Regions from separate parts of the Homo sapiens genome. Here regions 1 and 2 are each linked to region 3. The links come from fine-mapping of genetic effects on gene expression. A gene starts in region 3. Each other region holds a variant in brackets. All regions are shown on one strand. Distances are from middle to middle.

Region 1 (8,000 bases), 250 kb before region 3:
CCAGGGGTTCGATTTCTCAGTATCATCATGCCAAGGGCTGAGGTGCTAATGTGAGAAAGGTGGGTAGCTTGAAGAGGATGGGCTGGTACACAGATGCTGTCCGCAAGGCTCCATTATACACAAGGGCCTCTAAGGGCAGCTAGGCTGTTTCCCCTCCGGGCTCCAGAGGGCCCCACTCACCATCACAGTCAAAGAGTGCAAACACCACATCACACACGTGGTCTGAGAGCTCCACTTTAGCCACTGTCCTGGCCACCTGCTGCATGGTCACTGAAAAAAGAAAGAGGTGCATTAGCACAGCAGAGGGATTTTCATTTTGCTTTCTCTGATTCAGGGGATAAAACGACTCAGTCATAATACAAGTTTTCAACTGCATTTAAGTCACATTTAAGAAAATGATAAGTTAGGCTGGCCACAGTGGCTCATGCCTGTAATTCCAGCACTTTGGGAGGCCGAGGAGGGTGGATCACCTGAGGCCAGAACTTCAAGACCAGCCTGGCCAAGATGGTGAAACCCTGTCTCTACTAAAAATACAAAAAATTAGCCGGTGCCTGTAATCCCAGCTACTTGGGAGGCTGAGGCAGAGAATTGCTTGAACCCGAGAGGCGGAGGTTGCAGTGAGCTGAGATCACGCCACTGCTCTCCAGCCTGGGAGAGTGAGACTCCGTTTCAAAAAAAAAAAGAAAAAATGATAATTGAGTTTTTATTCATAAGCTCCCTCCTTTTCACCTCAAGTTCTGTTCTTTTCTACTGCTGCTACAGTTTAGGAGGTATATATAGTTAATTAAGAATGCCTAGGCTGGCCAGGCGCGGTGGCTCATACCTGTAATCCCAGCACTTTGGGATTCCGAGGCAACATGGCGAAACCCTGTCTCTACAAAAAATACAAAAAATTAGCCCGGCATGGTGGTGTGCACCAGCTACTTGGGAGGCTGAGGTGAGAGGATAGCTTGAGCCCAGGAGGCAGAGGTTTCAATGAGCTGAGATGGCGCCACTGTACTGGAGTAACACTCTATGTAACAGAGTGAGACACTGTCTCAAAAAATAAAAAGTGCCTGATATTCAATTTATAGACAGAAAGTAGATTAGAGGTTATTGTGGGCTGAGGGGAATGGGGAGTTACTGCTTTATGTATACAGAATTTCTGTCTGGGGTGATGGAAAAATTTTGAAAATAGTGATGATGGTTGTACAACATTGTGAATGTAATTAATGTAATTCCACTGACTTGTATATTTAAAAATGGTTATAATGGCACATTTTATGCCATATATATTTTTATATTTATATATATATTTATAGAAATATATAAATGGGTGGTGGGAACAAGGAGGCTTGTCTGTGGTGTGAGTACACTAAGGCTTCACGCCTTGGTGGGTGAATGACAGCTAAGTGCCTGCACAGTGAGCCCTCCCTGCCCAACTCTGTCCCTCCTCCCTACTGGTTTTGCACCAGACTTCTTCCAACTGAGCCCATTGGTATATGCACTGGCCCTTGTCTTAACAGTTCAGGATGCGTATCTTTCTTTTTTTTTTTGAGACAGAGTCTTACTCTGTCCGCCAGACTGGAGTGCAGTGGCACGATCTCGGCTCACTGCAACCACTGCCTTCCGGGTTCAAACAATTCTCCTGCTTCAGCCTCCCAAGTAGCTGGGACTACTGGTGCCTGCCATCACGCCTGGCTAATTTTTATATTTTTAGTAGAGATGGGGTTTCACCATGTTGGCCAGGGTGGTCTTGAACTCCTGACCTCAGGTGATCTGCCCACCTCGGCCTCTCAAAGTGCTGGGATTACAGGGGTGAGCCACCACACTCAGCGGGCCCGGCCAATAGTTCAGGATGCATATCTTTCTTTTAAAAAATATATATTTTTAGACCTCAGCAAAAAATCACTTTTCTCTTGCCGTTTTCTCTTTCCCAGACATTCACCGTCAAACACTAGCAATTATGTTAGAATTGGGTTCTCATGAAAGACAAGACAGGAAGGACGAGGCAATTTCCACTGCCTTCTCTCTCATTTATCCTCAAACCTGGTCTAGCTACACCTATAAATCATGTTATTGCTTCTGGACACATTCTTAAGTGAGGTAAAATATGAGGGAAAGAAAAGGATTAATTTCCATTTATGCTGGTAATGAAGAGCTCTCTATAATCATCACATTAGATTCATCCAGAAGCCAAGTGAACTTAAACTAGAACCACTGTGCCTTGTTTATCGCATTCCTATAATTTCAGTTCCTATTATCAGCCCATCTTGTCATTTTTTGCATTTGATCTTTCACTTTGCCTCTATCACCTCCATATATTTACCCGATACGGTTTAGATTTGTGCCCCCACCCAAATCTCATGTCAAATTGTAATTCCCAGGCCAGGCGTGGTGGCTTACACCTGTAATCCCAGCACTTTGGGAGGCCAAGGCTGATGGATCACCTGAGGTCAGGAGTTCGAGACCAGCCTGGCCAACATGGTGAAACCCTGTCTCTACTAAAATAAATACAAAAATTAGCTGGGCGTGGTGGTGCGCACCTATAGTCCAAGCTACTCAGGAGGCTGAGACATGAGAATCACTTGAACCTGGGAGGCGGAGGTTGCAGTGAGCCAAGACTGTGCCACTGCACTCCAGCCTCGGTTACAGAGCGGGACTCTGTCTCACAAAAGCAAAACAAAAACAAAAAAACCCTGAAAATCCAAAAACAAATGGTAATCCCCAGTGTTGGAGGAGGGGCCTGGTAGGAGGTTACTGGATCATGGGGGCAGATTTCCCCCTTGCTGTTCTCATGATAGTAAGCGAGTTCTCATGAGATCTGGTTAAGTGTGTGGCACCTCCCACCTCTCTCTCTTCCTCCTGCTCTGGCCATGTGAGACGTGCCTCCTTCCTCTTCGCCTTTCACCAGGATTGTAAGTTTCCTGAGGCCTCCTCAGCCATGCTTCCTTTACAGCCTGTGGAACTGTGAGCCAATTAAGCCTCTTTTCTTTATAAATTACCCAGTCTCAGGTAGTTCTTTATAGCAATGCAAGAATTAATTAATACATCACCACAGTGCCCCCAACATCAGCAGATGCAAACACTGGAGCAATGCAGAGGAGCAAGGTAATGCGGTAGAAAACAAGGCTTGGAGTAACGGGACCTGGGCTCCAGTTCTGGCCCCACCACCAACGTGCTGTGTGACCCGGATGGAGTCACTTGATCTCTTTAGATTTAATTTTCTCATGTTCAAGTGGAGGGATGCCACCAGACAACTGCTGAGGCGGCTTACTAGCACAAAGAAGGGTTTATTGGTGTCATCTAGAATCTGAGGGTGAGGTTGGGGTGGAAATATCCCATCTTTTCTCCCAGGATCTGAGTTAGGGTGAAGAGGAAATTAACATTCTTTGGTACTAAAAGACTGAAGTATAAGATATTGTGGTGGATATTCATGAGATGTGTGTTGGGAAATCTACAAGACTATAGCGCTCTAGAGTTTAGAAATTTAGCCTCACAAATCTAGATACTTGATTTGGCTCAGGAAAAACTTATTCCTGCTAACTAAACTGTCCACAGAAGGAACAGAAATCAGGCCAATTTGCAATAAGAATAGTAACTGTTAAGAGAACTACAATGATGACAGCTGGTCATTATACTTCTCAGTAGGAAAGCTACTAAGGAAACCCCATTCACCTCAGAAGATTAACCTCAAAAGATTACTCAGTGAAAACAGAATGAGATCAGAAGGAACTGGAAGCGCTTAAACTGTGATTGCCTACAGCTTTACTCTTTGCTGCCACAGAAATGTGTCCTGAGAAGGGGATCGGAACCTGTTCTGTATTAGATAAACATGAACACTTTCTGTTAACCATTCC[T/G]TTTTCTGCATTTCACATCAACCTTAAGCTTCTGACTTCCTTTTCTCTTTCCCAGTTCTTCCATTCTCTCAGGGCACAGCCTTCTGCAATTGTCTTGATATTTCAAGTACTCATCTTCTCCCCATGAAGATGGTGCCCTTTCCTGTAAATAAACCATTAATTAAATAATACTCAAGGATGTCAGTGAGAGCTCTTGACAATTTCTAATGAGAGGCTCATTAAATTGGTATTAAGTGGTTGTAGAATAGGGACTTCTGGAGGCCTCCAGCAAGAATGCCTCATTACAGATGCCATCTCTTCACAGAAAGTTATAGATTATGTTCCATCTCACATGGAGAGGGCTCTGGTGTCCTTCCTACCATAGGAGGAAGAACTAGGGCTGCTAAGTTATTGTAGCCCAAACCACTGGGATGTTAGCCAGCAAACAGCCTAGCTGGGGTCCCCTTTCCTGGTACAAGATCCTCATTATAGGCCCCTGGGGTATGAATCAGAGTCGTGCAGGAAGCCAACATTTAATAGCTGGTGAGCTGTCAAACTAGGAGCACCTGGGATGAGTGGGATGACGGCAGATTACAAGCCAAGTGCTTGACAGCTGGTCCTGAGAGTTGGTTCATTCATATTTGCTTCCAATATCTCTGAATCCAGTCATAATCACAGCAAGCAGAACAAGTTTTCCTCCCAGATCTCAACTTTTTTATGCAGACCAGTTGTTGGTACTGGAATTCTGGCCTCCCTATTTGATGATGCTGACTGATGGTTGGGATTCCAGCTCCCAATCTGAAAGATGTCTACAGGGAGCATGAAGGCACCCCAGCGAAGGCCTAGCTTTCTAAATACTACGTATTTTTGTACAAATCTGGCCCAGCTGCCTGAACAAAGGGTTTAAGTGCGATTGGGTGATTCCTATTAGATTGGGATGGGAGAGAATTTGTAGAAGTGGGCTCAACTAGTACTCAAAAATCTGGCACCATCTGGCTTTTTGCAAAGTCCAGGCAGAATCCGAGTTGTGTCAGGTCCCCAATTTACTCTCCAGCATGATTCATGACTGGCTGTTTCAACAGTAAAAAGAAACCCTGAGTTTGTGTGATATAATATCAGAAACTACATACATAAATCTATTCACCACAATAGTTAAACAGAAGAGCTCTGAAGTGATGAGAGCCCAAATGTCCACTTGGAATCAGAGAATCTTAGAACTGGAAGATACCTCAGAGGAAATGTGACGTTAAATAATTTGCCCAGGGTCACAATGCTAGATGGTAACAGAGCTGGGTCTCGAATTTTGGCTGGTGCCCTTTCCCTATACACACTGGGTCCACATGATCCCTTCCATATATGGACAATATCAATTCCTCCATGACATGAATCTGTCACCCTGAGGAGAAAGGGTTTAGATTAAAGAAAAGTCACATGGGAAATACTCAAGTCCTTTTGGTGAGGGATGAATGAATAATTGAATAACTGGGAGTTGTGAGGCACCAGCATTAATTATAGGTTGGCCGTGGATCTGACTACCCCCTACAGTGGAAGACACTGAGTATTCCCTAGGAACTCATACCGACAATTTTAGGGACAACTTAAAAAGTGTATTCAACAGCAATCCAACGAAAAGCACATGTAACGAATGTGGCCCTGGGAGTTTTTCTCCACAGCTGCCTCTGATGCACAGATACAGCTTTAGGCAGCATGACCCAGTTAGGAGCTACCTGCCTCTTCCTAATGCAAAAGTGTTTGGAAAGGTGGTATGACAAGTTGGGCTGACAGTCTCTAAGCTGTGTGGCCATGTACTATTCCTGCCTTACCGGACTGCAGTGGAGAAAATCAAAAGCTGACTGGTGATGGCCAAGGTTAAGTGAGGGGAGATGGTTCTGCTTCAGCCCTGGAAAGGCTGATGCAGATGTCTTGTTTTCTTAAGTCCATCCCTAGATGGCTTTGGGTGGAACAAGGGGGAGGATATTTCCTTAAAGAGCATGTGTCCTGTCTTTTGTATCTCCTTCCATGAGCTTTTGTTAATACAAATGCACATTTTAACCTAGTTCTGGGGTGAGGGGAGGGGAAACGACAACATTTAGGAGAACTAGCAATTTAAGGAGCCAAGAGCAATGCAGCCTACAAGTAATGGAAATGATAACAATTCCTTGTTCTGTACGGTGCTCTTAGGCCCTATGCCCGCTGACCCCCTGTGTACTCAGGCTGCCTGACTGTCAGAGGTGATGCTGCTAATCCTAGCTCCTAACTTCCAGGACACACCACGGAGAAGATCTGTTTTCTGAGCCTGAGCGCATCATCCCAGATGATGGCTTCAATGGGCTTACACGCTTAATTTGGTACAAACTAACTTGGCAGTAAGATTTATTGCCATTGTCTAGTATTGTATCTGGGTTTATTAAAAATCCCCATCACATCTTTTCCACAAAGGGCTAGCATTTCTGCAAGCATCATTAGGTAGTCAATGATTTCAGCTGACACACCCATGGGACAATCACAGTTTGGTGGAGGAGACTGTGTATATATATATCTATACACACACACACACACACACACACACACACACACACACACACATTAAGATGGAGAAACACGTAGAAGAGACAGATATCAGATATATTAATACACACATATGGGAAATAATGGAATAGTGTGTATTTGGTACGAGTTACATTTTGGATCTGAATTCTTTTTTTTTTTTGAGACAGTCTTGCTCTGTCGCCCAGGCTGGAGTGCAGTGGTGCGATCTCGGCTCATTGCAACCTCGCCTCCCGGGTTTAAGTGATTCTCCTGCCTCAGCCTCCCTAGTAGCTGGGATTACAGGTGCCTGCCACCACGTCCGGCTAATTTTTTTTTTTTTTTAGTAGAGACAGGGTTTCGCCATGTTGGCTAGGCTGGTCTCGAACTCCTGACCTCAGGTGATCCACCCGCCTTGACCTCCCAAAGTGCTGGGATTACAGGCATGAGCCACCGCGCCTGGCCTGTATCTGAATTCTAAGGGAGAAAAGAGACCAACTGCGCATGTATGGTAGTGAGTGATGTGGGTTGGGGGTTTCTGTTTGAATACAGTATTAAAAGCAGGAAGGAGTGCTAAGGCCTGATTAGAGAGTTAGAACAGAAGGTGCAGGGGGTGAGTACATTAGGAGAAATCTTACAGAGGACTAGTCAAGTCTCCTTGCAAGAAAGTCTTTAAAACAGGCCAAGTGTGGTGGCTCACGCCTGTAATCCCAGCACTTTATGAGGCCAAGGCAGGCAGATCACCCGAGCTTAGGAATTCAAGACCAGACTGGCCAACATGGCGAAACCCCGTCTCTACTAAAAATACAAAAATTAGCCAGGCGTGGTGGCACATGCCTGTAATCCCAGCTACTCAGGAGGCTGAGGCAAGGGAATCACTTGAACCCGGGAGGCGGAGGCTGCAGTGAGCCAAGATCACGCCACTGCACTCCAGCCTGGGCGACAGAGCAAGCCTCCGTCCAATAGTAACTTGCTTTTCCCTCTCACATTGTTTAAATATTCATTCTGTTAGCTTTATTTTAAAAGTTGTTTTTAATTAGGACAGGTGCAGTGGCTCATGCTTATAATCCTAGTGGTTTGGGAGGCCAAGAATGAGACCAGCCTGGGCAATAGAGGAAGACCTCATCTCTACGAAAAATTTTAAAAAACATTAGTTGGGCACGATGGTGCGCTCCTGCAGTCCTAGCTACTTGGGAAACTGAGGTGGGAGGATTACCTGAGCCCAGGAGTTCAAGTCTGCAGTGAGCTATGACTGCACAACTGTACTCCAACCTAGGCAACAGAGCAAGACCCTGTCTCAAAAAAAAAAAAAAAAAGATGTTTTTGATTCGCTAATATAGTCATCTGCTTCAAAATTTGAATGGTACAAAAGGGGTGAAGTCTCTCTCCCAACCTTATACCCCAGTCACCCAGTCATTCAGAGACAATCAATGTCACTAGTTTCCCCAGAAATATTTTGTAGATATAAAATCAAATATGTACTCTTCGCTTCTTCCCTTTTCCCACAAAATGGTGGTGTACTAAATATTGTTTTGCTTTACTCACTTAACAACATATCTTAGAAATAATTCCAGATGGACATGAGCAGCTTCCTTCAATAGCTGCATAGTATTCCACTGACAGGATGGATCATAATTTCCTTGTTTATTTAACCAG
Region 2 (8,000 bases), 150 kb before region 3:
TAGTATACAGTAAGTCTTCACTAGGTTCTAGGAAACTGAGACTTTAAGTGAAACAATGCTTAACAAAACCAATGTTACCATAGGCTAATTGATAAAGATGAGAGTTAATTTCCTATGGCATATTTCTGGTCACAAAAACATCAGCATGGCTGGGAGTGGTGGCTCACACCTGTAATCCCAGCAGTTTGGGAGGCCGAGGTGGGCAGATCACCTGAGGTTGGGAGTTCGAGACCAGCCTGGCCAACATGGTAAAGCCCTGACTGTACTAAAAACACAAAAATTAGCTGGGCGTGGTGGGGCACGCCTGTCATCCCAGCTATTCAGGAGGCTGAGGCAGGAGAATCGCTTGAACCTGGGAGGTGGAGGCTGCAGTGAGTGGAGATCGCGCCACTGCACTCCAGCTCAGGAGACAGAGCAAGACTCCATCTCAAAATGAAAACAAAAGCATCACCAAATTTCTAAATAAAGACCCAAAACACTTCTAATAGTAAACACTGAAATAAATGTGAGCTATATATATAGATCTAAGAAAGATTGATAAAAACAAGTAAGATAGTCATTTACCCAATTTTTAGTGATTAGATGTCGGTGGTCATAGTGGTGGTGGGTTAAATCAAGAAATAAATGTTTGCAAAGTGAAAATTGTAATAAGTACCTCCTCCTACCATGAAGTTCAAACATAAACAATAACCAATATGGCAGTCTCACTGAGAGCTTTTGCACTGCATTGTTTATCATCTACTTTATGAGTTTATTTCACAATAATTTGCATTCTTTCATTTTCTAACATGCTTATTCCAGTTCAGGATGGAGGATGATCAGAGACTATCCTGGCTGCTCTGGGTGCAAAGCAGGAACCCACCCCAGACAAGATGCCGCTCCATCTCAGGGCACACTCACACACACCCACTCACTTAGACTGGGACCATTTAGACACTCCAGTGCACCGAACATGTACATCTTTGGGATATGAGAGGAAACCGGAGTACTCAGGGAAAACTCAAACAGACAGGGGACTCCGCACAGAAAGTGGCTCTAGGGGGAAATCAATTTGTTCCCGCTCATCAGTGTTACAACAAAACGACATTGAACAAAACAACACAATTGAGACAAGTGGGTGGAAAAGGTGAAATCATATATAAGAATCTTGGGGAAACAGGGAAAGCAGATACAGAAGTAACATACATAGTTTAAAAACAACATAGCACCTTTCTCCAGTATTTTCACCTGTTTTAGTTATAGTAGTTAATGTTTTGAAATTCCAAATAATATTAAGGTAGGGCGTGTGTTAAAAGAAAAAGAGAGGCCGGGTGCGGTGGCTCACACCTATAATCCCAGCACTATGGGAGGCCGAGGCAGGAGGATCACATGAGGTCAGGAGTTCAAGACCAGTCTGGCCAACATGGTGAAACTGCGTCTCTAATAAAAATACAAAATTAGCCGGGTGTGGTGGCACATGCCTGTAATTCCAGCTACTCGAGAGGCTGAGGCAGGAGAATCGCTTGAACCTGGGAGGTGGAGGTTGCAGTGAGCCAAGATCATATCATGCCACTGCACTCCACCCTGGCTGATGGAGTAGGACTGTCTCAAAAAAAAAAAAAAAAAAAAAAAAAAAAAGAAGAAAAAGAAAAGAGGTTGGGAAACACCAGTGTAAGAGAATTTTTAAAAATGTCAAGAAATTAGAGACTAGATTTTTGTCTCCAGACAAAAATACATATAGAAGGCATTTGATCAATGTTTTGAATGGAACAGAATAAATAGCTAGAATAGCATGATGGTCTAAACTTTAAATGGAAAAGTAAACTTGTAAATCCCCAAACACAGTAAGATACCTTTGCAACTCTCAGCAACATTGCCTTAAACAATTAAAGAGACAGGATCTCACCGTGTTGCCCAGGCTGCTCTCAAACTCCTGGGCTCAAGCGATTCTCCCACCTTAGCCTCCCGGGTAGCTGGGACTATGGGTGTATGCCACTGTGCCTGGTTAAGCACATATATTTTATATTAAGCACACATATTTTTATTCTGACATTTTGTGTTTCCAGCTCTTACTACCTTTGCAATTATCCATCCTTCTTCATCTCCATCTTCTGGTGTCTTCCACACAATAAACAAAAAAGCAGGAATATATGCTCAGATTGAGAACTGCTGTGACCCCTGAGTTTCTTTCTCCACAAACGGAACATACAAAGACAGCTAAGATTTTTCAATTTAGAGGTTTTTGGTTTTAGATTACAGAAATACTTCACTTCATGACATTTTCACAGAACATGTTGTTTCCTATCTGCTGTCAGTTTATAAAGCACTGATAAGCTTCAAATCAATCAGTTCTCACAGCTGGAGGTAAATGGAAAGAATGCCTATAGTACAGGCCCTCCTGCCCATCAGTTCCACATGTGATGGATCTACTGAGTCTAAGGAAGACCTACCTCAAGCTTCAGAACATCATGCTGCAGTTTACGCTGAAATTCGAGGAAGTTTTTGATTGTCAGCTTTCCCTTCAGATCAGCTCCAAAAAAGTAGGTTGTGAGGGCTGAACACAAGCCAGACTTGAGGGTGTTGCCAGTAGTTGGACGATCTCTGTGGCGCATACCCATACTGGTTTGGGAGCGAATGATGCTCTGAACCTAATACAGAATCAAACCCACATCCAGAAAAATATTAGGAAGTGAGAAAACATAAACATAGAAAAGCAAGAATCATAACTATTGTTTACTATTTGCCTACTCTGTATTATAATTATCTCTTTTAATGCTTACAACAATTTTTTTTTTTTGAGACAGAGTCTCTCTCTGTCACCCAGTCTGGAGTGCAGTGGTACAAAATCAGCTCACTGCAACCTCCACCTCCCGGGTTCAAGCAATTCTCATGCCTCAGCCTCCTGAGTAGCTGGGACTATAGGTACACACCATCATGCCTGGCTAATTTTTTGTATTTTAATAGAGACAGGGTTTCACCAGGTCGGCCAGGCTGGTCTTGAACTCCGGACCTCAAGTGATCCTCCCACCTTGGCCTCCCAAAGTTCTGGGATTGCAGGAGTGAGCCACCGCGCCCAGCCTACAATAATCTTATAGGTGCTATTATTATCCTTATTTTATAAATAAGATTGAAGCACACGGAATTAAATAACTTGCTCAAGGTCAAGTGGCTGGTAAGTAGCAGAATTAGGGTTCTAACACAGACAGCCTGACAACTTTATAATTGGGATCCTCTTAGAAAATCTCTGTTCAGGAAAGGATGAACATTTGTTTTGGAGACTCAAAAACTCTCTCATGACCAGGTGTGGTGGCTCATGCCTATAATCCCAGCACTTTGGGAAGCTGAGGTGGGTGGATCACCTGCGGTCAGGAGTTCGAGACCAGCCTGGCCAAGATGGTGAAACCCCATCTCTACTAAAAACACAAAAATTAGCCGGGTGTGGTGGTGGGTGCCTATAATCCCAGCTGCTCAGGAGGCTGAGGCAGGAGAATCACTTGAACCCAGGAGGTGGAGGTTGCAGTGAGCCAAGATTGTGCCACTATACTCCAACCTGGGTGACAGAGCGAGACTCCATCTCAAAAAAAAAAAAAAAAAAAAAGAGACAGGGTCTTGCCTGTCATACAGGCTGGGGTGCAATGGCACGATCATAGCTCACTGCAACTTCAAAATCCTGTGCTCAGGTGATCCTCCCACCACAGCCTCCGGAGTAGCTAGGACTACAGGCACATACTACCAATCCCAGCTAATTTTTTTTCCCCCTGTAGAGATAGGGTCTCACTATGTTGCCCAGGCTGGTTTCAAACTAGCCTCAAGTGGTCCCCCAACCGCCTCTGCCTCCCAAAGTGCTGGGATTATAAGCATGAGTGATCGTGTTCAGCCCAGTTTCTTACCTTATATAATGTACCTGATACTTTCTCCCACTTCCTGGAATATTTGCCCCTTTCCTCATTTTGAGAATACAAAAAATGCTTTTTCCTATACATACAGTTTTTCTGTTTTGAGACCACTTCTGGCAATCATAATAACTGTATCTGGAGAAGCACCATGGTTCTCCAATGGCAGTAGTTCTATGGAAATGTAACCTATTCCTAGGATTTTGAAATTGTCACCTACTATAGTCAAAAATGGTATGGCACCATTTTTCCTTCTCTTATAGAAATCCTTTAAGAAAATATGTAGTCCTTGTATTCTGGAACTGCCTAGCACATAGCAGCTTTTTGGTAAATGTTGAATTGCCATAATTTAGCTTCCCAGCTAGAGGCATTATAACCCAATTTATGTTGGAGAATCGGAGCAACCGTGACCTTAACGGTATGTTCAAATAATTCATTACATTTAGAGTGAAAACAAACAAATAAAACCAACCCACCTGTTCAAAGAATAATTTTGAGAAATGACATTTTAGGTACTTCAAAAATTGGAATAGCCTCTGAGTATACTGACCAAGGCTAAGGTAACTCCAAGGCACATGAAAATGTATTTTAAATATTAATGTATTTAGAGGAACTCTCCAGGACAACTTGCCTGTTCAAATTCTTCCATATCTACTTCTCCATCTCCATTCAAATCAAACATCTTGAAGGCAATTTCAAAATTTCTCTGAGGAGCTGCAGAGGAGAGAAAAAAAATATTTAGAAGGCATTGACCAAAAATAAATCCCTTTTTAAAGAAAAACAAAAGGCTAAACACTAAAATGTAATATCAAAGTCACCATAAAAGTGACTGAGTCAAAGTCTCAATAAATGGAAAATGAAACTGCATTTATTGAGATCACCCTTTTAGGAATACTCCTTGAAACCAAAAAAGAGTAGTACTACGGCCAGTAAAGACAGCACTTGT[C/CT]TACCTTTTTGTTTCAACATGCTTTGCCTTAAATGATTTAGCTTTGCTTTCAGAGACACCATCTTCTTAGCTTAGTAATATTAACGTTCTGTTGCTTCAATATGGTATTACTTATCTGGGCAAGAAAGTATGTCTAGGGTGAGACATATTGCTGCAAAGTAAGAAGTTGAAACACTACATCTTAGTCTTACCCTCACAACAAGCCAGCTTTCTACTTTGTTCTTTCTAGTCTCTTTGTTGTAAGTGCAGTCAGGAGTTCTGGGCATGTCACCCTGCCAACATGGATAATTTCAAGTTGGTTTCTTTTATTAGTTTATTCATTATCACTACAGCTCTATGGTAAGGCAGAAAAGTACACTGTAAGGTACTCAGCCCCCTATTTTTTTTTCTTTTTTTTTTTGAGACAGTTTCACTCTGTTGCCCAAGCTGGAGTGCAGTAGTGCCATCTTGGCTCACTGCAACCTCCGCCTCCAGGGTTGAAGTGATGCTCATGCCTCAGCCACCCGAGTAATTGGGATTACAGGCATGTACAACCATGCCTGGCTAATTTTTGTATTTTTAGCAGAGACGGGGTTTCACCATGTTGACCAGGCTGGTCTTGAACTCCTGACCTCAAGTGATCCACTCGCCTTGGCCTCCCAAAGTGCTGGGATTACAGGTGTGAGCCACGGCGTCTGGCCTCAGCCCCCTATTTCGATCATGTCAGCTGCATACACAAATTACTAAATATACTTAAATGGTAAAATTAAGCTGAAGTTTAAATAACAAAATGAAAAAATGCAAAGCTTGACAAAACTTTCCCTTAATGATGAAAGCTTTTCAAGGCTTCTTTAGTGTTCCTAGATCAGTCATAATATCATTAATATACTCTGTGCATTGGAATAAAATATAAACTCAACAGCCCTCCTCCCTTCCCATACTAAATGTTCTGGTAAAGAAAACTAAGTTGTTTACTTCCTTCCTTTGGTGCTTCAAATTTATACAGCTCTAGAGAATAAACCAAAATAAATATTCTATGTGTCCTTATACTAGTGAATTAAAATTTCAGTTAACATCATTTACATGAAAAAAGTTAAGATTTTATGCAGAGAAAAAAGTAAAATGAACTTTGTATATTATGTATAATTGTTAGAGAGGCCATATTCCCATCCTGCTCATGAATTTGTCAACAGAAACACTTTCTGGGCTCAAATTCCATTTTCAGGTAGTTAGGCAGCTAGGCTGGAAACTCCTGGTTTTTAGTTGCCTGGGTGAATCATGTGTGTGTCAGCTTCCAATTGTCTGCTTCACTTGATATTGACTTCCAATAGGTTTGCTTTCCTTTAGGCCAGAGACAGGGTTTCAACATGTCAGCTAGGCTGGTCTTGAACTCCTGACCTCAAGTGATCCTCCCACCTTGGCCTCTCAAAGTCCTGGGATTACAGGTGTGAGCCACCATGACCCAGCCTTCAATTGCTGGGAAGGATGCAGCTGGGGGAATTAGTTTTGTATATTTGTTGTCACTTCTCAAATTTTTGCTACCTGTCTGAATGTTACATTTTACTGAGGAGTTACTATGTGGCAGGCATTGAGCTAGATAATTGGAGGTGTTTATTATTTGACTTCATACTCTCAATCTTGAAAACTTTCATTTCTTTATTGTTTAAACAGAGGAGGATATTGGGGCTCAAAGCAGTTAAATGGCTAGCTCAAAAATCACACAGCTCCTTTTTGGCAGAAGTGGGAATTGAACTTAAGTCAACACTGACTCCAAAGCCTACAAACTTTCCTTATGTTCCAAGGCCTCTAATGTGAACATAGAGGTACTTAAAATGATAAACACACACTCTTCATGCTGACACGATTTGACCTAAAAACTAAGCAACAAAACATGACACAGTGGTTATGTCAGTCTCTGCAAAAGCTGAACATTCCAAGTTGATCATCTCAAGGAGATAACCAATATCACAGAAACACTGCCTGTGTTATGCTCAGGAGTTTAGGCTTGACCGTAGTAAATGGAAGATCCACAGGCAACATTAAACTCTCAGATAGGTTTGTCATGTGTTTTTGTTTTTTGGGACAGGGTCTTGTTCTGTCATCTAGGCTAGAATGCAGTGGCACAGTCATAGCTCAATGCAACCTCAGACTTCTGGGCTCAAGCAATCCTGCCTCAGCCTCTGGAGTAGCTAGGACTACAGGTGCGTGCCACCAAGCCTGGATAATTTTTCTATGTTTTGTGGAGATGTGGTCTCACTACATTGCCCAGGCTGGTCTTAAACCTCCTGGCCTCAAATGATCCTCCTGCCTCAGCTCCCCAAGGTGCTAGGATTATAGGTGTGAGCCACAGCACCCGGCTGGTTTGTCATGTTTTTTAAACTTCTGATTATAAATCTCTTCAGGTGGAAATGTTCTCTCTTATTCTTCCTTATTTTGTCACACTTGGCCCACTTCACTCCTATATGTTATTTGCCTAATTCCTGTAGATACTTGAGAATGTAACAATGGCAGAAAATATGAAGCCACTGAAGGTTTTAAGTAGGAGAGTGACACAATCAAGCAATTATAAAGGACTTCTCCAGCTACTGTGTGAAGAATGAGTTGGAAAAGAAAGGCCAGCTTTAAAGAAGATCAGAAGCTCTTTTAAATGTTGAAAATGCAAACTGCAGTGATGGCAGTGGTAATGGAGAGGAGGGACACATTTGAGATACCCAAAGAAGGCAGAAATTATAGAACTTAATGATTAGTTAGCTGTGATGAGTTGAGAGTGAAAAGGAATGACAGCATGACTGGCTTAGACTACTGTGTAGCTTGCATGGCATGAAGAAAGAGAGCAAATAGATGTAAAATGTTTGAGAAATAAAATGATTTCAGACGGGATCTGCTAAATTTAAGGGGTCTCAGCTTATGCAGATGAAGATGTTCAGGAGACAGTTGGAAATATGGGTCTAAAGCTCAGTGAGAGAGGTTTAAGCTGGGATTTATGGGCATACAAGTGGCTAGCTGCAAAGAACCTGAAAGGAAGTTGCCCATGCAAAACTGAGGAGTGAGGAGAAGGTCAAGAAAAGGGTAGATTGCAGGTGGAAGCCAATGTTTAAAGTGCAACGAAAAGGAAAGGAGGCAGTGACAGAGGAAGCGGCATCACAATATCCAGAGGAATACAGCCCAAATTAATAGAAATAGGAAAACATTTGATAAGAGCG
Region 3 (11,180 bases):
TGACCTCAAGTGATTCTCCTGCCTCAGCCTCCCAAAGTACTGGGATTACAGGCATGAGCCACTGCACCTGGCCAAGCACTTCAAGTTTTAAATAAGCAACATTAAATCACTTTGAAGAGAAATGCAAGCATTATTTGTATCCTTAACTGTTGAGGATATCTTTTTCAAATATTACACTAAAGTTTCAATTTTCTCATAGTAAAACCCATCTTGAACTTAATATTAGTCTAGGAAACATTTATGATCTGCAAAAAATTGATCACCCTGTTAGTTTGGGGGAAAAAAGCTGAGTCTACTTCTAGCCATTTCTTGCCTCATAAACAGAACTAAAACACCTCTCCCACGATGTGGCAATATTTAACTTTTCAACGACAGGTTATTAATTATATTTAATGTCAATCACTTCTCACAGTTGTCCAATTCCACAGCTACCTTTTTTTGCTTTTTCAACTGACATTCTGTTACCTGTTTTACCCACAGGTATCTTATCTACAGGTATCCACTCTATCGTGCTCTTAAAGCATGATTGGCCAGGCATGGTGGCTCATGCCTGTAATCCCCATATTTTGGGAAGCCAAGGCAGGCGGAATGCTTGAACCCAGGAGATTGAGACCACCCTGGGCAACATAGTGAGACCCCGTTTCTACAGAAAAAAAAATTGTTTTAATGATGAACCACCAGAATAAGGCATAAAGATACAAAACTAGTGTTAATTATAATTTTAAAGTTAACACCCAGTAATAGCAATTAGTTATAATTATGGTAATTTATTTTACATACCACGTTCAAAATAAAGTGGTTTTGGATGGGCGCAGTGGCTCACGCCTATAATCCCAGCACTTTGGCTAGCAGATCACCTGAGGTCAGGAGTTCGAGACCAGACTGACCAACATGGTGAAACCCCATCTCTACTTAAAATACAAAAAAAAAATAGCCAGCCGTGGTGGTAGGTGCCTGTAATCCCAGCTACTTGGGAGGCTGAGGCAGGAGAATTGCTTGAACCCAAGAGGCGGAGGTTGCAGTGAGCCAAGAACGCGCCATTGCACTCCAGCCTGGGCGACAAGTGTAAAACTCCGTCTCAAAAAATAATAATAATAATAAAAAAATAAAGTGGTTTCTATACTAACAGATTTTTAAACATAAAACAATGAAAAGAACCAAGTATTTAATCATATCCACAACATGTATTTAAATATTTAAAACATTTTTATTTACTATTTATTAACTGCAGTTACTAATCAAGTTCACCCAAAGCAATAAAAATATCAAGAATTTATTTTAACAAGCTGGCTAATACATAATATATTTAAAGTTATAAAACCTGAATATTCCAGAGCAGGGGTACTAAACATGTAATAACAGTACAGATACACACACTGGAAGAGTGTAAATTTTTTCAAGTTCTTTAAGTGATTATAATAGGCATTAAAAATAGAAAAAAATCAACACATAAACTGTAAATACAATTTTTTATATTGCAAAAGGAAACCAAGTTCTCTTATTTATTTATTTATTTATTGAGCCAGAATCTTGCTCTGTCGCCCAGGCTGGAGTGCAGTGGCACGATCTCAGCTCACTGCAAGCTCTGCCTCCCAGGTTCACGCCATTCTCCTGCCTCAGCCTCCCCGGAGTAGCTGGGACTACAGGCGCCTGCCACCACACTCGGCTAATTTTTTGTATGTTTGTTTTTTTAGTAGAAACGGGGTTTCACCATGTTAGCCAGGATGGTCTCGATCTCCTGACCTCGTGATCTGCCGGCCTCAGCCTCCCAAAGTGCTGGGATTACAAGCGTGAGCCACCGCGCCCGGCCCCAAGTTCTCTTAATTAAAAAAAAAAAAAAAACATGAAAATTATTTTAGTGAACATCTGTTGTTTTTGCCTGTCCAGCAACCAATTGCTCTTCTCCAGAAAGCATCACCTCAATTTTTCTTTAGGAACTGTCACCCACCCTTAACTCAAATGGTTTCAAACTATATTCCTCTCCTTCCCACTCCAGGATAGGGACAAATTCCAAGCCTAGCCACACAAAGCATTCCATCACTCTGGCCACAGGGACTGCCTCTAGGATGGGCAAAGACCCAAGTCAGGTCAATGAAACTACCATACAGTGGTGCGCTGGAACTGTAGAGAAAGGGAAATTCTCTTTCTTCTTGGGTTTCTGAGGTTGAAGGAAGTAAGCCTAGTGCTGGTATTACAATCTTTCCCAGGGAATCTGACTCCAAAGCCTTACTTTTCCACACTGAATCCCAAATATGCAAAGGGAACTAGTGGTTACCTGGTAGTAAGAGAAAAGATAAATTAGGACTTTGACTTTCAATATTGTATTTTCGATAATGTTTCCATTTTCCAAAAATAAGCATATTACTTCAATAATAGGAAATTTAAAATGTTTAAAAATATTGCCCGTGTTTTCTTCTCAAACATGCTTATTCATATTTCAATATCTTAAAAGTATTAACAATTTTCTCATAATTTACCAAAGCACATAGAATATCCATCTAAAAACAATCACCTTCTTCTCCTGGCACAAAATAAAGCTATTACAATATTTTCATTTTTAAATTATGAGTGGGAGGCCAGGTACAGTGGCTCACACCTCTAATCCCAGCAATTTGGGAGGCTGAGGCGGGCGGATCACTTGAGGTCAGGGGTTCGAGACCAGCCTGGCCAACATAGTAAAACCCCATCTTTACTAACAATACAAAAATTAGCCGGGCGTGGTGGCGCACGCTCCTGTAATCCCAGCTACTTACGAGGATGAGGCAGAAGAATCACTTGAACCCCGGAGGCAGAGGTTGCAGTGAGCCAAAATCGCGCCATTGCACTGTAGCCTTGGCAACGAGAGTGAAACTCTGTCAAAAAGACAAGACAGAGCGAGACTCCGTCTCAAAAAAAAAAAAAAAAAAAAAGACAAGAAAAGAAAAGGGAAGGGGAGGGGAGGGAGAAAGAAAGGGAGAAGAAAGAAAAAAAGAAAAGAAAAGAAAGAAAAAGAAAATATGTGTGGAAAAAACAGTTGAGTAAACCTTTTTAAAAAAACTGGTTCTAGTGGCTAGGCATGGTGGCTTGTACCTGCAATCCCAGAACTTTGGGAGGCCAAGGCGGGAGGATCGCTTGAGTCTGGGAGTTCCAAGACTAGCCTGGGTAGGCCAGGTGTGGTGGCTCAGGCCTGTAATCCCAGCATTTTGGGAGGCCGAGGCAGGTGGATCACCTGAGGTCGTCAGGAGTTCGAGACTAGCCTGGCCAACATGTAAAACCCCATCTCTACTAAAAATACAAAAATTAGCCAGATGTGGTGCCGCGCCTGTAGTTCCAGCTACTTCGGAGGCTGAAGCAGGAGAATTGCTTGAACCCAGGAGGCAGAGGTTGCAGTGAGCCGAGATCACACCACTGCACTCCAGCCTGGGCAACAGAATGAGACTCCGTCCCCACCCCTCAACAAAAGGACCAGCCTCGGCAAAATGGCTGAACCCCATCTCCATTTAATTAATTAATTAATTAATTAAAAACTGGTTCTTATTTTAAAAGGGATACACTAAACAACTGCATATGGAAAAAATGGTTAATGTTCAGCAAGTGCTGCAGCCATTGTAAAAATGGCTCAAGAGATAAAGCTAACTTTAAAGACTGAAGGTGGCAAAATTGGGTTTAAAAAAGCTTTATCAATTATATTAGTCCTATAACTCTGAATAGCATAAGATCTGAAGGAGTTGGTCAGTTAAATATTTCAATTATAATTATTTTGCATAATATTGCATTATGGAGAAATTTCATATCGTTTTATTCTTTTGTTGTTGTTTTAAGAGACAGGGTATCGCTCTGTCGCCCAAGCTGGAGTGCAATGGTACGATCACAGCTCACTGCAGCCTCAACCTCGAGGGCTCAAGCCATCCTCCTGTCTCAGCCTCCCAAGTAGCCAGGACTACAGGCATGCGCCCAGCTAATTTTTGTGTTTTGTAGAGATGGTCTTGCCATATTGCCCAGGCTGGTCTCAAACTCCTAGATTCAAGGGATCCACCCGGCCTCCCAAATTGCTGGGATTATGGGCCTGAGACACCACACCCAGCCTGTTTTATTCTTAAACACAGGAAAGTTAGTCTCAAGATGCACTTCTTAGGAATGTAAACAATCTACTGAATATAGTAAATATAAAGGAAGACAGCAATAAACACTTTTGTTCTCTTGCATTTATTAGCTTCTATTAGTTTCTATCATTCTTTCCCTTTCTCCTCAGGCACACAAGCCACTCCAGAATATTCACTTTTTGTTAATATTATGTTTTATGGCTCTCAGTAAGGACACTCAGAAGATGTCAGAGACACTTGCTTGATATATTAGGTAGCCAGAGTGATGTTCTTAAGTGGAAGAGACAATCAGGGACAAACCAAGGATTGGGACAAAGAGTAGCTGGAGGCAAAAGCCACCTTCCTACAGACAAGTGGCAATGGGTTCTAAAGTTTTTAGGATAAGGCAATATTCAAAAAGCTCATTACCTGGTCCACACCAGAAACACAGTAGGTGGGTCATTCTGGCCAACACCTTTGTCTCAAGATACTGACGTTTATTATTTGTCATATGGTCCAATGAAACCTAAACTCTCCTACAGCTATCCACACCGAACTTGTTTCACCTCATGAAATGCAAACTCCTTTCTTATACTGCTCGATCACTTCCCTACGTGCCCCAAAGGGATGTTCTAATATAAACAAAGGCATATCAAAGAAGCCACCCAAACAAGTGAGATAGAAACATTTATTGATAAATAGGAAGAAAATGGGCGTTTCTAAGGTACCACAGGAAAAATAAAATATTTTACTCTAGTCCCTTAGCTATAAGATATTTATTCTACTTATATTTACTAATGGCCACCGTATTTTTTAAGACATGGAAAATTGGAAGGTAAAGAAACCATCAACCATAAGATTACAGAGAAGGCAACTTGAAGAACAGTTTGTTTTAAACTGTTCTCCCAACATTCACATAGAGTCAATAACATCTAGCTCTTTCTCAAAACAGCCTATGGCCGGCCAGAATGCGACGGTGAAAACAAAACAGGGAGAACGTAATGAAAACGGGAAGGCGCTGGAAAAGATAAAAACTGAACAGTCCGAGTAGCCTGCACTTTGTATTTCTCCTTTGAGTCCTCACTGATTTTCCACTTATTTCGATTCAGTGGTTAATATTTCTCCGTATTAGAAATCCATCTGTGAACTCCCGCACCCACTTCTAACCACATCCACAAATTCCAGGAGAGCCAGTCAAGGCTACCAGAGTGTCCCAGTCGCCTGTGAGGAGGGGGGCGTCGGCGCCAAGTTGCGAACCCGGCACTGGGAGAAGTTCTCCCGGGACGGGAGAAGGGACGGGTTGGGGTGAAGGAAAGTGGAGGACGGGAGGCAAGCAAGACTACGGACTCCTCTCCAAAAGCTGAGCGCATCAGGGAGAGACAGGTATCCCGCCAGACCCGAGAAGTAGCCGGATGCCCGGGGCGGACAAACGGCCAGCCACGAAGCCCAGTTCCCTAAGGCTGTCTCGCCAACCCCCTTCCCCTTCGCCTTCCCTAAATTGCTGTCTCCTTATACCCTCCAGAGTCCAAGACTCACGCGTCCAAACACGAGCTCCAGCAGCCTCTCGGTCAAAGCCGCCCACCTCTGACAGCCATAGAGATGAAACAGCGGAGACAAACCTCCACCCCCTCCGCCCACTCTCACGTGACTCTCCTAGCCGCTGGGCCTGTCGGGATCGTGGAGACAGGCGTGTGGGAGGGGCACAGAGGAAAAGGAACGGGGAGGGGCGGGGAAATCAACGCGCCACGCCCCAGCCTCGGGCCCCGCCCTAGCCCCGTCACTCCCCCTTACTCCCCTCAGCGTTTAGGCGGGAAAGCTGGAGAGCTCCCAGAAGCTCTCGGGCATTTCTTCTGGTTTTTTTCCCCTCCACAAGGGTCATAGGAATCTGTTGAGAAATTTACTGTGGCTTGTAACACCTCCTCGGTACCCGTTTTCGTGTTGGCTATGTTGGCTAAGCAAAAAGGAGTTCGTGAAAAGAAAACTGGACCACAGTGAGTTGGAAATTGTTTCTTTCCAACTCCGTTTAGGTTTTCTCAGAGATTAAATGTTCCTGTTTCATAACCTTGAGACTTTTTTGGATTTAGAAACCCTCACCACTTCCTCTGGTGGATGATTTTGTCAGGTGTTTTATTTGCAGACTAATATTATTGCAGAGTTTATAATCTCTAGAAGCCACTTAAAAACATGTTTTCCCTTGAAGAATGTGTTTTTTGTTTGTTTGTTTGTTTGTTTGTTTTGAGATAGAGTTTCACTCTTGATGCCCAGGCTGGAGTGCAGTGGAGCGATCTCGGCTCTCTGCAATCTCTGCCTCCTGGGTTCAAGCGATTCTCCTGCCTCAGCCTCCCAAGTAGCTGGGATTACAGGCATGCGCCACCACGCCCTACTAATTTGTATTTTTGGTAGAGACGGGGTTTTTCCATGTTGGTCAGGCTGGTCTGGAACGCCCGACCTCAGGTGATCCGCCCACCTCGGCCTCCCAAAGTGCGAGGATTACAGGCGTGAGCCACTGCGCCCGGCTGAAGAAGGTGTTTTTATCAGAAAAATGGGATGGCAAAGGATCCTCACCCCTGCTGTGGAAATAGGATGGAAATATGACTATAATACCAGAGAATTTTTTTGGGGGGGGGGCAGCGGGGTGTTGGTTGGTTGTTTGTTCGTTTGTTTTGAGACGGAGTCTCGCACTGTCGCCCAGGTTGGAGTGCAGTGATGCTCACTGCAACATCCTCCTCCCAGGTTCAAGTGATTCTTCTGCCTCAGCCTCCCGAGTAGCTGAGATTACAGGCACGCCCCACCACGCCCGGCTAATTTTTGTATTTTTAGTACAGACGGGGTTTCGCCATGTTGGGCAGGCTAGTCTCAAACTCCTGACCTCGGGCGATCCTCCCGTCTCGGCTTCCCAAAGTGCTGGGATTAACAAGTGCGAGCCACCTCGCTGGTCCCAGAGAACTTTCAAATAATTTTTTTTTCCCAAGAATTTACGTAGCAGAGCTGTGGAAAAGGCAACAACCATGGAAACAAAGCCAACAAAACCATCCCTGGGGTAAATTGTGAAGTAAGCAGAATCAACTCTGTTTTCTCCATTTCTTCTCAGACCCAACTAACCTAAGTACAATAGATGATTGTGTTCATGGCTCTGTGCTAGCGCTTTACATACAACCCAGTGCTTGTCTACAACCACTCTAGGATGGATACTGTTTTATTCATTTGCAGATAGGGAAGCAGGCTGACACCCCTAGGTAATGCAGTACATGCAGTAGCGGGACATAGACCTGACCTGAAGGCCTCTGAGGCTTCCACTCTTAAATGATGTAATTCAGGCCGGGCGCGGTGGCTCACGCCTGTAATCCCAGCACTTTGGGAGGCTGAGGCGGGCGGGTCAGGAGATCGAGACCATCCTGGCTAACACGGTGAAACCCTGTCTCTACTAAAAATACAAAAAATTAGCCAGGCGTGGTGGCGGGCGCCTGTAGTCCCAGCTACTCGGGAGGCTGAGACAGGAGAATGGCAGGAACCCGGGAGGCAGAGCTTGCAGTAAGCCAAGATCGTGCCACTGCACTCCAGCCTGGGCGACAAAGCGAGACTCCGTCTCAAAAAAAGAAAGAAAGATTTGCTGAAATTCAATTCTAATTTTAGGCAACATTTGTCTATATAAAACTAATCAGTCAAACTAACTGTTAAATAACATTTAAAAACATAAATCATTGTTTCTCAAACGTTTTGGTCTTAGGACCCCTATACACTTAAAAATTATTGAGGACTCAAAATAACTTTTATTTATGTGTGTTATACCTATCGATATTTACCATATTCGGCCAGGCAGAGGCTAATACCTATAATCTCAGCATTTTGAGAGACTGAGATGGGATGATCACGTGAGGCTAGGACTTTGAGGCTACAGTGAGCTATGATCATGCCACTGCACTCCAGCCTGCGCAACAGCGCAAGAACCTGTCTCTATAAACTTTTTTTAATTTAGCATATGAGGACTTAAAATTGAGGCCGGGTACAATGGCACCCAGCACTTTGGGAGGCAGAGGCGGCAGATCACCTGAGGTCATGAGTTCGAGACCATCTTGGCCAACATGGTGAAACCCTATCTCTACTAAAAATACAAAAATTAGCCAGGCATGGTGGCACACGCCTGTAATCCCAGCTACTCAGGAGGCTGAGGTAGGAGAATCGCCTGAATCCGGTAGACAGAGGTTGCAGTGAGCCAGGATCATGCCACTGCACTCCAGCCTAGGCCTCAGTGACAGAGCAAGACTCAGTCTCAAAAAAAAAAAAGAGAAAAGAAAGAAAATTAAAATTGAAATTATTTTAATGTGTACTTAGTCATTTAAAAATAATAGATCCATTATATGTTGACATAAATAATGTATTCTTAAGAAAAACAACTTCAAAAAAAAAGAGTAGCATGGTTTTACATTATTGCAAATTTCTTTTCTTTTTTTTTGAGACAGAGTCTCACTGTGTCGCCCAGGCTGGAGTGCAGTGGCACGATCTCGGCTCACTGCAACCTCTGCTTCCCGGTTTCAAGTGATTCTCCTGCCTCAGCCTCCTGAGTAGCTGGGATTACAGGCGCATGCCACCACGCCCGGCTAATTTTTTTGTATTTTTAGTAGAGACGGGGTTTCACCATGTTGATCAGGCCGGTCTCAAACCCCTGACCTCGTGATCCGCCCACATCGTCCTCCCAAAGTACTGGGATTACAGGCATGAGCCACTGTGCCCGGCTGCAAATTTCTTTAATGTCTGGCTTAATAGAAGACAGATTCTTGTATCTTTTCTGCATTAAATGTTTGCACTCTTACACTTCATGTAGCCTCTGGCAAACTCTACTATATACTCAAGAAAGAATTAGAGCGATAAGGCAAATAACAGTGTATTAGTAAGAAAACAGTCTTGACCTTACAGATTACTAGAAAGGGTTTCAGGAAACCTCCAGTGGTCTTTGACCACACTTTGAGAACCACTGTTTTAAACCATACAAATGTTAAATGCTATTGTATATTTTGTCTAGTCATTTTGGCATCAAGTAGAACATTTAATGGAAAGGAGAACAAGACAGAGACAATTTACAGACTAGGCCAATCTTATACAAATAAATATGAGATGTGAGTATTCTTTCTTCATTTCTTTTTTTTTTTCTTTTTTTGAGACGGAGTCTTGCTGTGTCACCCAGGCTAGAGTGCAGTGGCACAATCTTGGCTCACTGCAACCTCCACCTCCCAGGTTCAAGTGATTCTCCTGCCTCAGCCTCCTGAGTAGCTGGGATTACAGGCATGCGCCACCATGCCTGGCTAATTTTTGTGTTTTTAGTAGAGATGGGGTTTCACCATTTTGGCCAGGCTGGTCTCGAACTCCTGACCTCGTGATCCACCCGCCTCAGCCTCCCATAATGCTTGGATTACAGGCGTGAGCCACCGCATCTAGCTCCTTCTTCATTTCCAAGAGTATAGAGTAAGTTAGCAGAATTCAAGGTCATAACCAAACACAGCTATATTCTACATTAGAAATCTGTCCATCAATTCAGTATTGTTTTTCAGGATGCTATGCAATGTGTTCCGAGTCATATAAATGTATGATATCACTAATCAAGGTTTATATCTCCTGTACAAACTAATAATAAGACTCCTCTGGTGACCAATAAAATTTGAAGTCAAAATTCTTTCACAGACATATATTGAATACCTACATATTAATATATGTAATGCTCACAACTAGTGCTGGGCTTGTAAAAATTTATAAGCTCGATTCCTGCCCTTGGGCAACTTGTATCTATAATGAGACTTGCACCACCGTAAAAATGTATTTTTTAACAAGTTCAGTAGTTCCCAAACCAGTCTGGTGATCAAATGCCTGGGAATTATCTGAGGAGATTTTTAAAATACAGATTCTTGGATCATGAGACACACTGCTTCAGTGAACCAGGGTGATGCTCTGGAATCTGGATTTTAAAAGTCCCAGGTGATTCCCCTGCAATGATAGGATTGGGAATGAATACTAAGTCCTGTATACTTGACAAATAGATTTGATCTTTGCCCCCAGGACTATCATACTATCATATGCAAAATATAATGTTTATTTATTTCATCTTCAGTATTTCAAAAGTGTGTTGTGTTGAAAGATCTGTGTTATCAAGGGACAGTATTTAATGTCATTCACTAAAAATAGAAATTGGTGTCCTTATGTCATACATTTTATAGTTCATCTATTCTTATCACATTAAAATAATATGTGTTACCACAGCAGTCTCCAACATATCACACCACTGTAAAAAACAAAAACATCTTTTGCAACAAGTATCAGACTACAAAAAGTTTATTTTCTAAAGCTTTCATTCAGTTTCTTTAAAATGAATTCAATGAGATGGTCTTTGTTTTATTACACTTATCTTCAGGGTTCCATAGATTATGGTATCTCAAAACCTATGCAGTCGTCCATCACAAACTCCTTTTGAATATATATATCAGAGACAGAGACAGAGAAACAAAGAGACAGAGAGTCTTAGAGTCTTACTCTGTCGCCCAGGCTGGAATGCAGTGCACCATCTCAGCTCACTGCAGCCTCAACCTCCCAGGCTCAAGTGATCCTCCCGCCTCAGCCTCCTGAGTAGCTGAGACTACAGGTGCAAACCACCAGCCCTGGCTAATTTTTTGTAATTTTTGTAGAGACAACATATCACTATGTTGCCCGGGCTGGTCTCGAACTCCTTGGCTCAAGAGATCCACCCACCTTGGCCTCCCAAAGTGCTGAGATTACAGGTGTGAGCCACCACACCCAACCTTTTTGAAGTTATATTGTACTTGAGTAGCTATCTAGAGACTTATGACCCATAGTTGTTCTTGCAGTGAGTATTCTTCTCTAATACTTATAGCCAGAATTAATTATGTTCAAATAAATATGAAAAAAATTTTAAAAAAGCTTAAATGTTTCCTGGCTTTTTACCACTAGGAGGTGGGAGGATGGCATAAATATGATGATTTATAAAAATTGACATATTCTCCTTGATTTTATGATTGAAACTAACTTCAAAATTAAAGAATCTCTGCCCAGATCTTGATTTCTGAACTACCTTTCTCCACAAAAAGGAACTAAGTCTTCTTGAAAACAGGGCTG

The links.
Region 1: its variant is fine-mapped to the expression of MICU1 in whole blood (TOPMed, PIP above 0.99).
Region 2: its variant is fine-mapped to the expression of MICU1 in whole blood (TOPMed, PIP above 0.99).

Annotation. Positions count from the first base shown.
Region 1 is chr10:72,375,603-72,383,602 of GRCh38, forward strand. It overlaps MICU1 (mitochondrial calcium uptake 1), which reads right to left. Exons shown (of 12, transcript NM_001195518.2): 11 at 181-270. Among named protein-coding and RNA genes, the nearest start is that of DNAJB12, 25 kb to the left of the region's middle. The variant T/G (reference allele first, on the strand shown) is at 3,840.
Region 2 is chr10:72,472,671-72,480,670 of GRCh38, forward strand. MICU1 (mitochondrial calcium uptake 1) reads right to left here. Exons shown (of 12, transcript NM_001195518.2): 7 at 4,504-4,586; 8 at 2,430-2,627. Among named protein-coding and RNA genes, the nearest start is that of DNAJB12, 120 kb to the left of the region's middle. The variant C/CT (reference allele first, on the strand shown) is at 4,819.
Region 3 is chr10:72,620,413-72,631,592 of GRCh38, forward strand. MICU1 (mitochondrial calcium uptake 1) reads right to left here and starts at 5,667. Exons shown (of 12, transcript NM_001195518.2): 1 at 5,598-5,667. RefSeq lists enhancers at 5,434-5,971, 5,522-5,671.